Linked DNA regions of Homo sapiens: region 1 is linked to region 2. A link means that fine-mapping ties the variant in region 2 to the expression of a gene that starts in the linked region. Tissue or cell type: lung. Region 2 holds a variant in brackets; the other region holds the start of a gene. All regions are shown on one strand. Distances are from middle to middle.

Region 1 (8,100 bases), 190 kb before region 2:
CAGATCGGGCGCCACAGAGCCCTCAAGCTGTACCAGCGGCAGCAGCACAGACAGGGCCTTCGCCCGGTCCCCAGGCCTGTTCCTCCTAGGGAAAAGATGGGCTCAGGCCCTCCCTGATGGCCCTGGCCTACTCTGTCCAGGGACCTCTAGACACTGAACCAGCAGGGACCCTTCCAGGGGCCTGACAATAATGACCTCAAAATGATAATGACCCTGGCCAGCACTGACCTCTCTAGTGACCTCAGATGGAAGTGATTCCTAGATGCGATGACTCTTAGGAGCAGTGATCTTGGACAGCGGTGACCATACCACAGGCAGCACCACCTCCCCCACCCCGACCCAGGCAGCAGTAACTCAGAACAACAGGGACCTATTGACATCAGTGACCCCGGTCAGCAAATTCCCCGAACAGCAGTGATCCCAGACAGCAATGGCTTTGCACGCAGAGACCTAGGTTTCGGAAACCTTTATGTGGCTATGACCTAACCCTTGCTCTGCCACTCACCGGTTGAGGGCAAAAGTGTAGTGGAAGCAGACATTATGCTGCTCGGCCACATCACAGGTGGGCAAGGCCTGCAGCGTCTCCACCAGCTCAATGATGGCCGAGTAGTCCTGCATCAGGGAACGGCAAGCACTGGCATCATGGGCCTCCAGGCCCCAAGGAACCTTGAGCCAGGGTCCTGTCCCACTCCTGACATCCCACCCAGCCACCATCTTCTGCACGCCTCCCTCAGGCCCAGCGGACACACCTCACAGGGAGAACCTACTGTATGCCCCATGCTGGGCGTTCCCAACCCCACAACTGCCCCAGGAGGCAGCGACATGCTCATCCTCTCTAACAAATAAGGAGGCCAACACTCAGAGACATTGGATAATTTGCCCAAAGCCACCAGTGAGCAAGTGGCCCAGCCAGGAACTGAACTTGGGTTTGTCTGACCTCAAATGCCAGCTGCCCTACTGCCTCTCTGAACACCACGCACCTGCACATCGCGGTAGGAGAGCAGCAAGTTCATGATGATGTCGGGGCTCAGCAGCTCCACGCTGTCCAGTCTCCGCTGCAGGCGAGCCAGCTCCTGCCGCAGCTGTGGCCCACTGAACCGCTCCCGCGCCTGCCGGATGTCCCGCCGAATGGTCTCCCGGAAATAGCCACTGATGCCCAGGGTAGGGGAGGCAGGGAGAGAGAATGGTGGGGCCTGTACCTCAGCCCCAGCCCACCATACCCTCACCAGCCCCCTCCTGGAGCACCCTCCCTGGGGGCCTTCATTACCAAGAGTCTGTGGGTGTGGCCTCCAGCAGGCGGGCAAGCCGGCCCACCAGGGGAGTGAGCAGGGCCTCGGTCCCCACTCCAGCCTGTACCAGCCCATCAGCCAGGCCCCGCAGAAGGCCTGCATCACCACACAGCACCCGACCAGTGGCCGTCACCACATAGGGGATCAGTGTGTAGCTGCCAACGCAATCCTGGTGGGAGGGAGGCAGGAATCAGTGAGGTCAGAGGTCAGCACAGGGCTAGACAAGGGGAGTGAGAGCATCAAAGGTCAGCATCAGTGGGAATTGGAATCGCAGGAAAGGGGCACCCGTCATGAGAGGAGGCAACAGGAAACAGAGGAATACTTGGGATGTCAGTGGGGGGTTAGGTGACTGAGGAGGCCAGGGGGATTAGTGGAGGTCAGAGGTCATAGCGGAAGTCAAAGGGCACTTTTGAGTGAGAGGTGGATTCTGCTCACCGAGTTCTTCTGGAAAACATCCTCCTGCAGGAGGCAGACAGTCAGATACTGGTGTTCTGTGTAGGCCTTACCCCAGCCCTGTGCCTGCCTCCACCAGCCCCAGGCCACCTACCCGCAGGGCCTGCAGGTCAGGGAGGTCGGCCTGGGAGCAGAGGAGCACATTGTTGGTCATGCTGAAGCTCTCACGCACACCAAGGTGGTAGAACAGGGAGGGCTGTACCAGCGAGCTGCTCACCTCCAGCACCACCACATCTGCAGGCACAGAGGGGGTGGCGCTGATCCCTGAAGCCCAGCTTGATGGGGAAGGAGCCGGGGTCCATCCTGGCTTGACCTGCCTTGCTGTGGGACTCCAGTAGGGTCTGGTTCTGCTTTGGGCTTCAGTCGGCCCTTTTTAGGGTTCCCCTGGCACTTTCACAGAACTGATCTCTGTAGTGTTGCAGGAGAGGAGTTGGGCTCACTGGGTTGGGACCCTCAGGCCACGGTTCAGAGCCTGTGAGCACCTGGCATGGGGGAAGGGAGGCTGTGGACCAGTTGAGTCTGTTACGGGCCATTTAGGAGGTGGGAGTTGCGCAAACATAGAAGTCCCCTCCCTTTGGTCTTCAGCACAGGCTCTTGAAAGGGGCTACCATCAGTGTGCATAGACAACGCTGTGCCTAAATGTATGTATGTGTATATCTGTGACATGTATAGCTTACTATGTCTGACTGTATCTGTGTGTGTGACAGCGTCTGCTAGGGCCTGCATGAGTCAACATGTATGCGATTTGTGTCTGTCGATAATTGTATCTTTGTGTCCGAGTGGTCGGGTCAGCCTTCATTTTAGGCTACGATTTCATGGACATCCAGGAAGCACAGCTACTGGACTCTAGCATAAGCAAGTAAGTATGGGGGCCGAGCATCCGGGCTGGCTGGAGGGAGGAGTGACTCGCGGGGGAATAGCCTCCTTCTGGCCCCGCCCCTGAGCCATCCTTTCCCGCCCACTTCCCCGCCCCTTCCCCGCCCATTCTTTCTGGGCCGCTGAGGCCACTTAACCTAAGCTCCCTCACCCAGTATCCAGTCCCGTCGGGCCCCTTCGCTTCTCTTTTTGCCTCTCCTAGCCCGATCCTTGGAAATAGTATGCTAGGACTCCTGAACTCCAGCCTCCCGGCCCCTTTCCCTAAGTCCAAGCTCCTCTCCCAGTAATTGTCCTCAAGAGATCCGCGTGACATTCTCCTGAGGGTGAGGCTGAGTTCTCCAACCCCACCCCTGAGACACCACAGCCCCGCGCCGCTCCCCGCCCCGCCCCAGAGTTCCAAAGCCCCTCCCCATCCTTGCCCCGCTGGCTGGGCACCGCTCCGACTGAAGGGTGCCTAAGCCCCAACCTCGAGCCCTAGAGCCGCGCCCGGATCCCTGTCTCGTCCCGAGCCCGGCCGCGCCCCAGATCCCCTAAATCCCACTTTTTTCACGGCCCTGTCCCAAGCCCTTCAGCTTTAGCTCACTTTAAGTCCCCTAGACCCGGTACCCCTCTCGGCCCCTCCCTTGAGCCTTCGAGCCCGGCTTGGTCCCCTCCCAGGACCCTGAGTCCCGCCCGGATCCGGCCCCGCCCCCAGCGCTCTCACCCGCGTTGTAGAAGGCATCCAGAGCCGCGGTGTCGCCTAGCTCCAGCGTCCCGAAGGGCAGGCTGCGCAGCTGCGGGGGCGGCCGCGGCCGGGGGACCTGCGCGCAAGCCTCGCGCAGGCAGCGCAGGGGCAGCGGCTCCGCCTCGGTTCCCTCCCGAGGCTCGAGCCCGGGCTGCGGCTCCCGGGTCAGCACGTAGACCACGCTGAGCGGCCGGCTCCGCGCGCAGCCCCGGCCCGGGGGCGCCGCGAGCTGCCGGCCCCGGCTCAGCGCCACGGCCAGCGGGTCCTGCCAGCAGCTGCCGGCGCGCTCCGCCCCGGACCGGGGACACGGCCCCGCCATGCGGGGGCGCTCAGGCGCGGGGCGCCGCGCACTGGGAACCGGGGGCGGGGCAGGAGCCTGGGCCGGCAGATCAGGAATCTTGGGATCTGGAATCCGTTCGGAATCGGAGAATCTCCCACGGGATCTAGGGATCCGGAATACGGCCTGACGTCCCGTTCCAGGAATCTAAAGTCCAGGGAGAAATCCTAGCTCGGACTTGCAAGGTCCTGAGGTTCTGAAATCCGGGATTGGGTCCCAGGAATCTGGGGCATCCGGTGATCGGCAGCTCAGAGCCACTTGGGGGATCCTGGGAATCGGCTCGGAGGTGCCCGCCACCTGGACTTCTCAAGGGAGCGCCCGCCAACGCTGCCCTGCCTTCACTTGTAGGCTAAGCCCAGCCCTTTCCCGGCCGACCCAGAAAGCTCCACCCTCGGCCCTGGGGCAGAGCCGCTCCCTAGCGGCTTGAGACTCAGCCTCTCCCCTCCCTTCTCTCCCGCCAGAACTTTGGAGACTGGCGGCTTCCGGAACAGCCTGTGCCCCTGTGCACGCCAAAGACTGTGGACTGCTCACAGCAAGTGCACATAAAATGTGTGAGGAGGCCAGGGCTAGGGAAAAGGTTCGATATGCAGGCCCTGCTCTGCAGGTATCTGTTGAATGAATGGCTCTCTAGAGACATCAGGGTGCGCAGAGCATGATGAACAATGGGTGTCCTCCCGGGCCCAGTGAGCGCAGGCAGGGAGGGACTGGGATGGGGGAAACCTACACCCTAGGCCGCTTGCCCGAAAGCCTTCAGTCCTGGAGTGGGACTTGGCATCTGAGCCTTAACTGTCACTAGGGGGCTGCTTTCCCCAGGACCCAACCTGCTGTGGACCCCCGCTGACCTTTGACTTCTAGGCAGAACGTGGCCATGGGACCTGAGAAGCACTTCCTACTCTAAACAACTCTAAACATTTCTTTAGCCACCCCTTGAAGGAGTCAACCCCAGCCCTTTGCACTACAGCAGCTTCTCAGCTTCAAATCCCCAAGAGTCCCCAACTTTCTTGTGTGAATTAATGAGTGAGGCAGCAACCTGGTAGAAGCCTCAGTGGACCCTGAAACCAAGAACTGGGGACTTAAGTTGAATAACTTGTCCAGGATCACTCAGCACATGACAGCAGGGTGCAAACCCAGGACCGCCTGTCAGACTCTTAACTATTTAATTCTGCCACTTACTAGAATGTGGCTTTGGGCAAATAAACTGCTTAAATGCTACTCAATGGCTGTTTCATTGCCCTGTTGCCTTGTGGAAGAAAAAGGTACCTTCCTTGGTTTGACCTTGGATTCGAACTGACACCCAATGAGATAGGCAGGAAGTGGTAGAGTTTGAGAACTTGGCCTGCAACAGAGGCTGGAGTGGAAAACAGACAACTTACAAAGGACAGGCATGGGCAACCGACAGGCTGAGAAAGCTGTGCAATTCCCAGCCAGGGCGGTGGCTCATGCCTGTAATCCCACTTTGGGAGGCCAAGATGAGTGGATCACGAGGTCAGGAGTTCGAGACCAGCCTGGCCAACATGGTGAAACCCCGTCTCTACTAAAAATACAAAAAAAAGTAGCTGGGTGTGGTGGCACCTGCCTGTGATCCCAGCTACTTGGGAGCTGAGGCAGGAGAATCACTTGAACCTGGGAGATGGAGGTTGCGGTGAGTGGAGATCGTGCCATTGCACTCCAGCCTGGGCGGGGCGACAGAGCAAGACTCCATCTCAAAAAAAAAAAAAGCTATGCAATTGTGCAATTCCTGCCACAAAGCCATCCACTTGCAGGACCCAGAGGGCCTCGGGAAATTGTCAATGGATGCTTGGATCTCCTCTAATCCTTCCACTGTATGCCCCTCTGGCTCATTGCACTCCAGCCTGGGCAGGGCGACAGAGCAAGACTCCATCTCAAAAAAAAAAAAAAAAAAAAAGCGGCCGGGCGCAGTGGCTCACACCTGTAATCCCAGCACTTTGGGAGGCCGAGGAGGGCAGATCATGAGGTCAGGAGATTGAGACCATCCTGGCTAACATGATGAAACCCCGTCTCTACTAAAAATACAAAAAATTCGCCGGGCGTGGTAACGGGTGCCTGTAGTTCCAGCTACTCGGGAGGCTGAGGCAGGAGAATGGCGTGAACCTGGGAGGCAGAGCTTGCAGTGAGCCAGGATGGTGCCACTGCACTCCAGCCTGGGCGACAGAGCGAGACTGCGTCTCAAAAACAAACAAACAAACAAACAAACAAAAAAGCTGTGCAATTGTGCAATTCCTGCCACAAAGCCATCCACTTGCAGGACCCAGAGAGCCTCAGGAAATTGTCAATGGATGCTTGAATCTCCTCCAGTCCTTCCACTATATGCCCCTCTGGCCTTGTCTTGCACACCTCCAGAGACAGAAGCCTCACTACTTTAGAGGCTGTCCTTTCCATCTTCCTGACTGGAAGGAAATTCTTCCCTGAATGGAGCTGAAACTTGTGTCCCTGCTCTGCCCTCTAGGGTTTTTTCCCAGTAACTGGAAGAGTCTTGAAAGGGCTAAAATGATTTTATTTTTAAATGTGGACAGGCAAGCAGAGGTGGTTGGCAAAGGCAAGGTGGCTGACGATCCGGAAGCTGTACAGGAGAGATAAGGGCACTGGCTGCCAGAGTGCCCTATCGAAGCATCATCCGAACCCTGCGGTAGGGGTGGCCCACACCACGGCCTGAGGCCCAGTCAATGCCATATTTGTGGGCGGCAGCCTCAGACACTGCATAGCGACCATTGAGATTTGATCGGTAACAGGATGCATACCACCAGGCACCGTGGACAATCACTGCACAGTTGCTGTTGCTTGAATCGTGGTCAGCGTCATAGGTGGTAAAGGGCCTCCCACTGTGGAGGCTCAGGGAATCCCCTAGCAGGGAAGGGATGGAAAGCACCTTGGTGCCCAGCACCACGCCTGGCACCTTTGGAGATATAATGCCATGGGAGTCTCAGAGCAACTAAGAGTTGAATTTTATCAGGCCCCACGAGCAACACCAAGGGGCCAGGTTGTTTGCGCAGGGTTACTCGGCTGGTTGAAGCAGCGGCAGGACTTGAACTCGGGACTGTCTGGCTCCAAAGCTCCCAGCTTTTCCCCCTGTCTTACCCCCTCCAGAATCCCCGGCCCCCCTCTAGCTCCTTTGTCTTCTCTCAGCTCCCATCCAGTCTGAGCAACTCTGCTAGGAAAAGCTGGGAGGAACCTCTTAGGTGCCTGGCCAGGAAAGGTGGTTCCCTGAGGCACTCCCTCATAACCACTTCCCTCTTTTAAATCTCTCCCCAATAGTCACTGTTTCTCTGAAAGAAGACTTCCGTGGTTCCTCTTCCAAAGCAGAGAACACTAACACTCAACAGAGCCTCAGGCGGCACCCAAAACTTCCTCCTTGCCTCCCTGCGCTCCCCCCGCCTTTTTTTTTTTTTCTGAGATGGAGTCTCGCTCTGTCGCCCAGGCTAGAGTGCAGTGACACTCTCTTGGCTCGCTGCAACCTCTGCCTCCCAGATTTAAGTGATTCTCCTGCCTCAGCCTCCCGAGTAGCTGGGATTACAGGCACCCTCCACCACGCCCGGCTAATTTTTTTGTATTTTTAGTAGAGACGGGGTTTCACCATGTTGGCCAGGTTGGGTTTGAACTCCTGACCTCAAGTTATCTGCCCGCCTCGGCCTCCCAGAGTGCTAGGGTTACAGGCATGAGCCACCGTGCCCGGCCTCCCTGCCCATTTTATAGAGGAGGAAACTGAGGCTCAGTGGAGGGGTAGGACTTGCCCAAGGTCACATAAGTACTAAATGGCAGAGATGGATTCAAACTCAGGTCTGTTTGCCTCCAGATCCCAAATTCTTCACTGTTGCACCATCCTGTTTCATGATTGCCATTTCTCAGATGCGGAAACTAAGGCCCACAGAGGAGACAGGATTGCCCTGGGTCATTCATGGGGGCAGTGGCAGCACTGGGAAAGGATCCAGCCTCCTTCCTCTGCTCCCCTTAGGCTCACTCACCTGCAGTGCCCTCTGAGAACTTGCCCAGTGCCAGCTGGTAGTGGTCTACCTCACCGAGGAGGCGGAAGGTCGCATAGTGGGCGAAAGTACGGTTACCATTAAAGTCTTCCAGCTCTACCCGCAGCTCCCAGTTACCTGGAAAGAAGGGGAGGCAGGGATGGAGGAATCCTCAGTTCTTGGGGGTGGGGCAGGGATTCAGGATGGCAGACAGTAACCCCCAGACTCCAGGACCCTGCTGGGAACTCACCCTGGAGAGTAAGCTGGTGCAAATTCTCATTTCCCAGCCAGAATTCAGACTCTTGGTTCCCAAAACCTGCTCTGTAGGAGGACCAAGAGCGGAAGAAATCCACAGAACCATCCTGGCGCCTCTGAAACACCTGGGGGAGGGGGGGCACAGCAGCTATTACTCCAGGCTGGGCACTGGCAGCTGAGGGTGCAGGA
Region 2 (8,100 bases):
AGTCCAGGCCGAGGTCAGGACTGTCCTGGAACAGTGGGTTGACTGGCTGTGGCTTGGGGATGAACTTGGCTTTGGCCGCTGCGCCACCCCGCTCCTTCTTGGCTGAGCAGGCCCCACCGCCCCGTCCACCTCGCGGCTGCCGGGGCCCAGTGCTCCGTTTGGATGGGTAGCCTGAGGCAGCGGCAGAGGCGGATGTCGGGAAGCCCAGATGTGAGGCCTCGAACAGGTCCACCTTCTTCCGCCGTCCACGGCCCGGCTTGGAGCTACTCTGAAAGAGGACACTCTGGTTCCAGTTGTAGCCGGGGGCAGATGATGCCTCGTTCCAGTCCATCATCAGTTTCTCCAGGCTGGACAGGCTCGACTGGCCCTCACTACTTGAGGCCTCGCTGTTGGCACGCCGAAACCCCCCGCCACCAACCGGCTGATTGAACTGGGTGCTGTCGGAGGATGACTCAGAGAAGGTCTCCGACACAGCCGTCTGCTGCTTCACCTTCTGCGGTGTGTAGTTGGAGATGTCCAGGATCACGTTGGGCTCGCTGACGTGGCAGTCAAAACTGGGATTGTAGAGCTGACTAAAGGCCTCTGAGGCCCAGTCCAGGCCTCCATAGCCCTGCCGGAAAGGCCACTGAGAAGCCCCCGCAAACTGCCGACAGTTCTCGGGCGAGGGCTGGAAGGAGGAGGAGGAGGAGGAGGCGGCAGAGGCTGCAGAGGTGGCAGAGGCTGTGGTGCCCTTGGGTACCATGTAGCCACCGGGCGAGACTGTGCTGGCCCGGCTGTCACAGCGCAGGGGCGTGGGGGCTGAACCAGAGAAGGGGGCCCCCTCAGAGCTGCTGAAGAAGGAGGCCTTGCTTGGTGGCAGGCAGGGGCCCCCGGTAGGCGGTGGGGCATAGCCGGCGCTGTGGGCGCTGCTGGGTGAGGCAGGGAGGCTGTTGCCACTGCCATAGGCGAAGCTGCAGTCCTTGCTGTTAGCGCAGTCCTGGCCTGTAAAGGGCTTAGTTGGGGCGAATACGCTTTGTCCGGCCCCATAGCCGCCGTACTGGGGCAGGTAGGTGTTGGCAGGCGGGTGGGTGGTAGGTGAGCGGGCCATGGCTGAGGGCGGGGGCACCAGCTTGGGGAAGGTCTCGGCTGCCCGGCAGTCTGAAGCGGCTGGAGTTAGCCCATAGCTTGCTGCTCGTCCTGGTGGGAAGGTCTGGCGCGCGGACAGGACAGGCTGAAAGGAGGGGTCCGCCCCAGCCCCGCTGCTACCCACTGCCACTGGGCTGGCCTTGGCTCCCCGGCTAGGGAAGGTGGCCAGGCCCCGCTGGGCAGGCAGGGCACTGGTGGGTGGCCCTGCATAGGTGCCCGATGCCTTCCGGGACTCTGGGCGAGAGGCTGAGAGGGCAAAGTCCAAGAGATCGGAGGAGTCATCCGAATCGAGCAGCGAGCGAAAGTAGCCGGTGAAGAGGTTTTGGCGCTCCTGGCTGAGCTCGGTCTGGCCTGAGGGTGCACCCGTGCTGTAGTAGCTGCCACGGCCTGAGGCTCCACTCTCCAGCCCAGTGGAGGCAAAGGCCCGGGCCTCGGTCCCCTGAAACCCACAGTTTCGGCCAGCTTGTCCGCCTGGGTGCCCATGGTGAGGGGCCCAGCCACCACCCTTATCCCCGGCCCACTCAGCACCTGCCTCCCCAAAGCCTGGGCCACTGGGCACCTGCTCTGGGAACAGAGTCCCATTCTTCCGGGACCGTCTCTTGCGCTTTGGCTTCCCAGTCACAGCGTCTACCTCCCCCCGGCCCCGTTTGCGTGGGTGCCCCAACTCAGTAAGGCCCGGGCCCCCGACCCCAGCGGCTGCCACGGCCACCACCTTCTTTTTCTTGCCGATGCCCTCAAAGAAGTCACTGAAGGAGCATCGGGCTGACTTGGCCGCATGGCCCCCACCCCGGCCACCAAAACCGCCTGCTTTGCCCCCACGCCGCCGGAAGCCCTGCACACGATGCAGGAAGTGGGAGATGCTCTGGGTGTCGGGGGCCTGGTGCACCGACTCCGGCTCACTGGGTGTCCAGCAGCGGGGCGGTGAGCACCGTCCAGCGCACTGGCTCTGGCGGTTCAGGAAGGCCAGCTTGGCCAGGACGTCTGAGTACTCGGCCTTGCTGTCGTTGGCGTCTGCTGCATAGGATGGCTGGGGAGATGCCAGCTTCTGCTTCCGCCGCCGTCGTTTTTTTACCTCTGGCATGGCCATGGTGGCCGCTGCCACAGTGGCTGCCTCGGCCGCCACCACAGCTGGCTCCTTGGGCTTGCCGGGACCCAGCAGCAGGTTCTTAGGAGGGCGGCCGCGCTTACGTTTGAGAATAATGGGCATCTCACCGGGTGGGAAGACCACTACCACGTTCCGCCCATTGTTCTTCATCTTCAGCAGCGGGGTGGGCTCAGCCGACACGCGCAGGCCCAGCTCCTTGCCCTCCACGCTCAGGCTGCTGCTCAAGGAAGACACTTTGTATGTGGTCTTGTTCCGCCGCCCCAGCGATACGGGGATCTTGGCCATCTTCACCACCATGCGCCGCACGCCCCGGCACTTGCCTTTGCGGGTAGAGACCACTGGGGTCTGGGAAGATTCCGGCTTCAACTCTGGGACTGAGACCGGGCCTGGGCCTGGCAGGGCAGGGGGTGGAGGAGGCGGTGGTGGTGGGGGTTCGGCCAGGGCAGCCACCAGCCCCGTGGGCATAGGCAGGGGCAGTAGGCGGCCCTCGGGTCCGGCGTCTGCCTTGCGTCCCCGTCCGGCTTTCCGCCGGCGACACAGGATCTTTGGCCTATCAGTGCGCCGCAAGGCGTACTTGGGGTGACCCTCAGGCCCGGGGGGGCCGTGCGGTGAGCACAAGTCCAGGCGCAAGGGCTCGGCCAGTGGGCAGTGCCCCAGGGGCTGCTGGGGCTCCAGACGGCGACCTGGGACGTCAAGCAGCTTGGGCAGGGGGTCGAGTGCCTGGGGGTCAAGCAGCTGCGACTCCAAGGAGTCAGGCAGGGTGTCCAGGGCCTGGAGAGCCAGGCCCGGCAGCCCCAGAGGATCAGCAAGAGGTTGCAGGGGTGGCAGCTCCAGAGCTTCCCCGAGCGGCTCTAGTGCCTGCGGGTCCAGGAAGCGGGGCTGGGGGTCCAGGAGCTGAGGCTCCGGCTCGGGCGATGGTGGCTCGAGGGCCTGGGCCTCTAGCAGCTGGGCCTCTGGGCAAGTGAGGGAGGCCAGCTCACTAAGGATGTCGGCGTCAGCAAGTTCTGAGTAATCAGTGCTGTCTGGCTCAGGCTCTGGGGGCAGACCCGTGGCCGCAGCCGTGGCTCCGGGACTATGGCCTTGGCCAGGCTGGGGACTGTCCCTAGGCTCAGGCTCAGGCTCGTAGAGGGGATGGCTGGGCCGCTCCGACTTGGCGTGTGGGGTGGCCCGCTCCTCAGGGCTACGGATGCTGTTGGCCAAACTGGGTGAGGAGAAGAAGCTGTACTGTAGGTCGCCGGGTGGCGGTGCAGGCGGGCGGCTCAGTCGGAGCCCACCACAGTCCAGGTGTACACCACTGTGCTGCAGGTCCTGGGAGAGGCGTGTCAGGTCCTTCATGATGTCAATCAGCTGCACCACTGGTCGCAGGTTCACCCGCCCGTTGTCCCAGCAGCGTCGGGAGCTGCTGCCGTCTCCGACCGGTGTGGGGCAGCGGGCCTGTGAGACAGGACGGGCTGCCCGTGGGGGCAGCGGGTCGTCCCCCTTGGCAAGGACTGGTGGGCGCCGGGTGCTGGGGTCCCGGCGTGGGGGTGGGCGTGGGTTCTCGGAGAAGGCGTGGGTGGAGAAGGCCTTGTCAGGTGGGCTGGCAGGGGGCCGGGTGGGAAGCAGGGGCCGGGGGGTGGGGGGGCCGCCGGGGTAGTACTTGGGTTCCCGGAGGTAGTCAGGAGAGCTGCACACGGCACTGGAAGTCACCACCAGGCCCTGGGGCTTCACACGCATCCTGACCTTGTCCTCCGCAGGCCGCCGGGCGGGGCCGGGGCTGACATGAGGGTGCGAGAAGCCGGGACCAGGACCTGCCAGGCAGGAAGAGCAGGAGGTCCCTTACTGAACACCTACATCCTCATCAGCTTCCCATATCCTTGATGAGCTCCTGGACCCCTCCCTCCTGAGGTCTCATCTCCTTACCAAGCTCCCCTCCCCACCCCAAGCCCCATCCCCTTGCTGACTCCCAGCCTTTCTCAAACCACCATGTGTATAGTGAGCCCCTCATGGGCCCAGTTTCACTTTTTTTTTTTTTTTTGGAAGAGAGTCTCACTCTGTCGCCCAGGCTAGAGTGAAGCAGCGTGATCTCAGCTCACTGCAACCTCCGCCTCCTAGTGCAAGCGATTCTCAGGTGTCAGCCTCCCAAGCACCTGGGATTACAGGCATGCGCCACCACACCTGGCTAATTTTTGTATTTTAGTAGAGA[C/T]GGGGTTTCACCAAGTTGGCCAGGCTGGTCTGGAGCTCCTGACCTCAGATGATCCACTTGCCTCAGCCTCCCAAAATACTGGGATTACAGGCGTGAGCCACCATGCCCGGCCCAGTTTCACTTATTGACAGCTCATCCCCTTTGGGAATCTGGCTATGCACTCAGGAAGAACAGGACCCCTGCCTTTGAGAGGGAAGCACATCAGCAGGGTGATCAAACTTAAGGAGAAGGCCAGGAAGTTCTAACAAGGGCACGGCCTCCCTCCTTCTTACCCCGAAAGGGCTCCAGGAGAACCCCCACCACTCACCCTCGGCTCTGCCGCCTGGGCTGTCACACTGGAGATCTCTGTGGGCAACAAGACGGGCAATAGATCTGAATTCCCCAAATGGTCTGGTGGCCACAGCTCAACCCCTGCCCACCGGCCCAGCCTCCTCCAGGTACCACCCCCGGCTCCCTCAGCGCTCTGTCCAGCGCAGACACCCGGCTGACCTGGAAGAGAGAGGGCCCCCGTGCCTGGGGGCTCTGCCAGTCGCTGGCTGTCAGCTGGGGGTGCTGTGGAGCAACTTCGGCCTGAGCCCAGGCCTCGGGGCGTGGACAGCGCCTGGAAAGGACCATCGCAGCTCAGGTTTAGTGAGCACCTACTGCGCGCCAGGTACTGGGCTGGAAGCTGTCCAGGCATCGTTTCATTTAATTCTTCATACCAATCCTGTGAGGTAGGGGCTATTAATAACCCCATTTTGCAGATGAAGAAATGGAGGCTCAGAGATAAAAGTAACATCATTCATTCATACACTCATTAGTTATAAAGTACCTACTTTGGACAAGGACTGGACAGACAGACACTGATCAGATCATTATAAATGACTTAATTACTAGTGGGATAAGAGCTGCAAAGAAAAAGTGAAGATGCCTGAGGTCAGAGCAATCACACCGGGAGTCAACAATAAAAGCCCATAGTTTGGGGACATTTTCTGTTGCCAAACACTGGGCCAAGCACTTTATATAGATTATCTCATCAAATTCCCCAGACAAACATGAGATCAATATGATTATCCTCCCCAGTCTTACAGAAACTACCCCCTGGAAGATGGTAAACACCATAAAAGCAAGGATATCTGTCCTATTCACCACTATATGTATTTCCCAACACTCAGAACAGCACATGGCCTACAGCAGCGCTTAAAAAAAAACAGCTGTTTGGCCAGGCGCAGGGGCTCACACCTGTAATCCCAGCACTTTGGGAGGCTGAGGCAGGAGGATCGCTTGAGTCCAGGAGTTCGAGACCAGCCTGGGTAACATAGCGTGACCTCGTCCCTACAAAAATTTAAAAATTAGCTGGGCATGGTGGTGCACACCTGTAGTCCCAGCTACTCAAGAGGCTGAGGTGGGAGGATCACTTGAGCCCAGGAGGTTGAGGCTGGCTGCTCTGAGCTATGATCGTGCCATTGTTCTCCAGCCTGGGCAGCAGAGTGAGATCCTTTCTCCAAAACATTAAATTAAAAAAGTTTGTTGCATGAATGAACGCACACAAATGAGGTACGCAAAGCAATCAACCCTGCCTTTTCCCTTGAGGCTCTTTCTTCTTCTCCAGACCCAAGAAGGATGCTGAGAGAGGGACCTAAGAATGTGAAAAGGGACATTCTCTGATCCTTCTTCCACCTTCATCGGAAAAACTCTGCTGCTCCATCCTACCTCTGGCCTTGTCCTGGCCCCTGCTACATCCTCTCAGAGCCCTATGTATTTCACCTTCATAGTATTCATTGCAACTATAATCAATTACTTGCGTGACTGGCTGTTTAGTGTGTCCCCCACAAGAGTGTGGGCTCTTCAGGAGCAGGGATCACATCTGTCTTGTTTATCGCTGTATCACCTGACCCTGGGGCCTGGGCTATGAATGCTACATAAATATTTACCGACTGACTCCCTGAGCTGGTCAGGGCAGAGCTGGGATTTAGATCCAGGCATGTCTGACTCCCAAAGAAGCCTGAGGACTCAGGGCCATGGCTGATCCCAGGAGCCGGGATCTCAGGGAGCAGGGAGCTGAATGGACCCCAACACTGTGAGGGTCTTAAAGACTGACCTTGTTCACTGCCTAATGTTTGGCTCTGACCTAGTACTGGATCCCTGGGACCTATGTGCCACAGACCCATGTAGATTCTCCCCACCTACCCATGCTGTCACCCCACAGGAAGACTGCAGAGCTGACTCGGGGACAGGATAAAGTAGAAAGAGACACTTCTCTACTCCCCTTTGGGGGACAGCGATTTGCAATCTACAAAGCACCTACACATCTGTGACCCACTGAATCCTCACAGCAGCCTGGGAGGCATGATTTATTATCCCCATGTTACAGGGGAAACTGGCTCAGAGTGTATGTGTAACTTGCCTGAAGTCACATAGCTGCTAAGAGGCAGGATTTCTAATTCTGCCTTAAGTCCAAAGCCTCCTTCCACTCCCAGCTCCTGTAACAATCCTTCAGCCACTTCTGAAAATGCTCCTTCTAGCGCCGTGGTCTAATTTAAGGCTGGGAGGAACCTTAAAATTATCTAACCCATTGGCTTCCAAAGCCTGGGCCTGGGGGAGCTGTGTAACATTCCAGATACCCAGGCCCTAGTCCAGGGGAATGTGACTCATAGATGTGAAGGGACATCTGGGAATCTGTATTTTTAACCAGCTACCCCAGTGGGGACACTTTCTAGTGCCATCTCATGCCCCTCCCATTTTACAGATGAGGAAACTGAGACTTGAAGAGGGAAAGAGACTTTGTCCGAGGTCACAAAATGGCACAGGAAGGGGCCCTTTGGTTGCCCACCCAGGTGGAACATCCCTCTATCCACTGTTCCTTCTCTCTCTGCAGGCTCCAGGACTCAGCTGCTCCTCGTTGTCCCACCTACTGGTCCCACCTACTTTGCTCTCTCCCAGGCCTGGCTGTGGACCTGGCCCCTCCCAGGTCAGGATCTCTCTAGTCCAAGAACTTGGAGCACTGTTGCCCTCACAGGGAGGACAGTGGGTGACACCCTCACAAACGAGAAAAGGGGCTCAGACTCTGGAACCTCCAAGTCCAATTTCCAACAGTGTGGTTGGGCCGTGGCTCCTGGCACCCACTTGGAGATGCCCACCAGAAGCCCCCTCCCTCCCTCCCTTACTGAGGGTCAGGCTAGCCGAGCCTTCCCCGCCCTGGAGACCTCCCAGCTGGGGCCTGAGGGTGTGATCTTGGCAGAAGAGAAAAACCTCCTCTCCGGTGGTGGCTTCTGTTCAACCCACCCGTGAAGACCTCTGGGCACGTCCTCCTGCCAGGCCTCCTGAGGCTGGCCACTGCTCTCTTTTGCAGCCTCCAGGATCTGAGGGAAACAGCTGGCTCCCCTCCTCACCACACCCCGGCGGCCATTCTCTTGGACCCCTCCCAAGGGTACCACCTAGCCCTGGTCTGTGGACAAAGTCAAAGGGGTACTTCTGTCTGCCTGTCTGCTGTTGGGTCAGTGTGTCTGAGCTTGCCCATAGGGACACCAGCTGGTTGGGAGGGGGCTGGGGGCCCCAACCTGCTGTGCACAGTGCCGGGAAGCGCCAGCCCACATCCTTGAGTCCCCAGCCCCACCCTCCCCGGCTGTGGCTGTGACCACCCCACCCCTTCCCCAGCCCTCCTTCCCCTCCCCCACCCACTGCCTCCCCAGGGGAGCCAGGCTGC

The links. PIP is the estimated chance that this variant, and not a neighbour inherited with it, causes the effect.
Region 1: it holds the start of MAP3K6, and the variant in region 2 is fine-mapped to the expression of MAP3K6 in lung (TOPMed, PIP 0.97).

What each region holds. Positions count from the first base shown.
Region 1 is chr1:27,362,937-27,371,036 of GRCh38, forward strand. It overlaps MAP3K6 (mitogen-activated protein kinase kinase kinase 6), which reads right to left and starts at 4,025. Exons shown (of 29, transcript NM_004672.5): 1 at 3,322-4,025; 2 at 1,837-1,976; 3 at 1,725-1,748; 4 at 1,268-1,458; 5 at 981-1,149; 6 at 506-612; 7 at 1-85. The coding sequence starts at 3,661. FCN3 (ficolin 3) reads right to left here. Exons shown (of 8, transcript NM_003665.4): 6 at 7,907-8,036; 7 at 7,660-7,794; 8 at 6,174-6,541. The coding sequence ends at 6,300. RefSeq lists silencers at 2,614-2,683, 3,274-3,323, 3,394-3,613, 3,644-3,753 and enhancers at 3,006-3,949, 3,950-4,891.
Region 2 is chr1:27,548,170-27,556,269 of GRCh38, forward strand. It overlaps AHDC1 (AT-hook DNA binding motif containing 1), which reads right to left. Exons shown (of 9, transcript NM_001371928.1): 6 at 4,905-5,016; 7 at 4,723-4,760; 8 at 1-4,020. The coding sequence starts at 3,946. Among named protein-coding and RNA genes, the nearest start is that of AHDC1, 52 kb to the right of the region's middle. RefSeq lists an enhancer at 7,246-7,801. The variant C/T (reference allele first, on the strand shown) is at 4,416.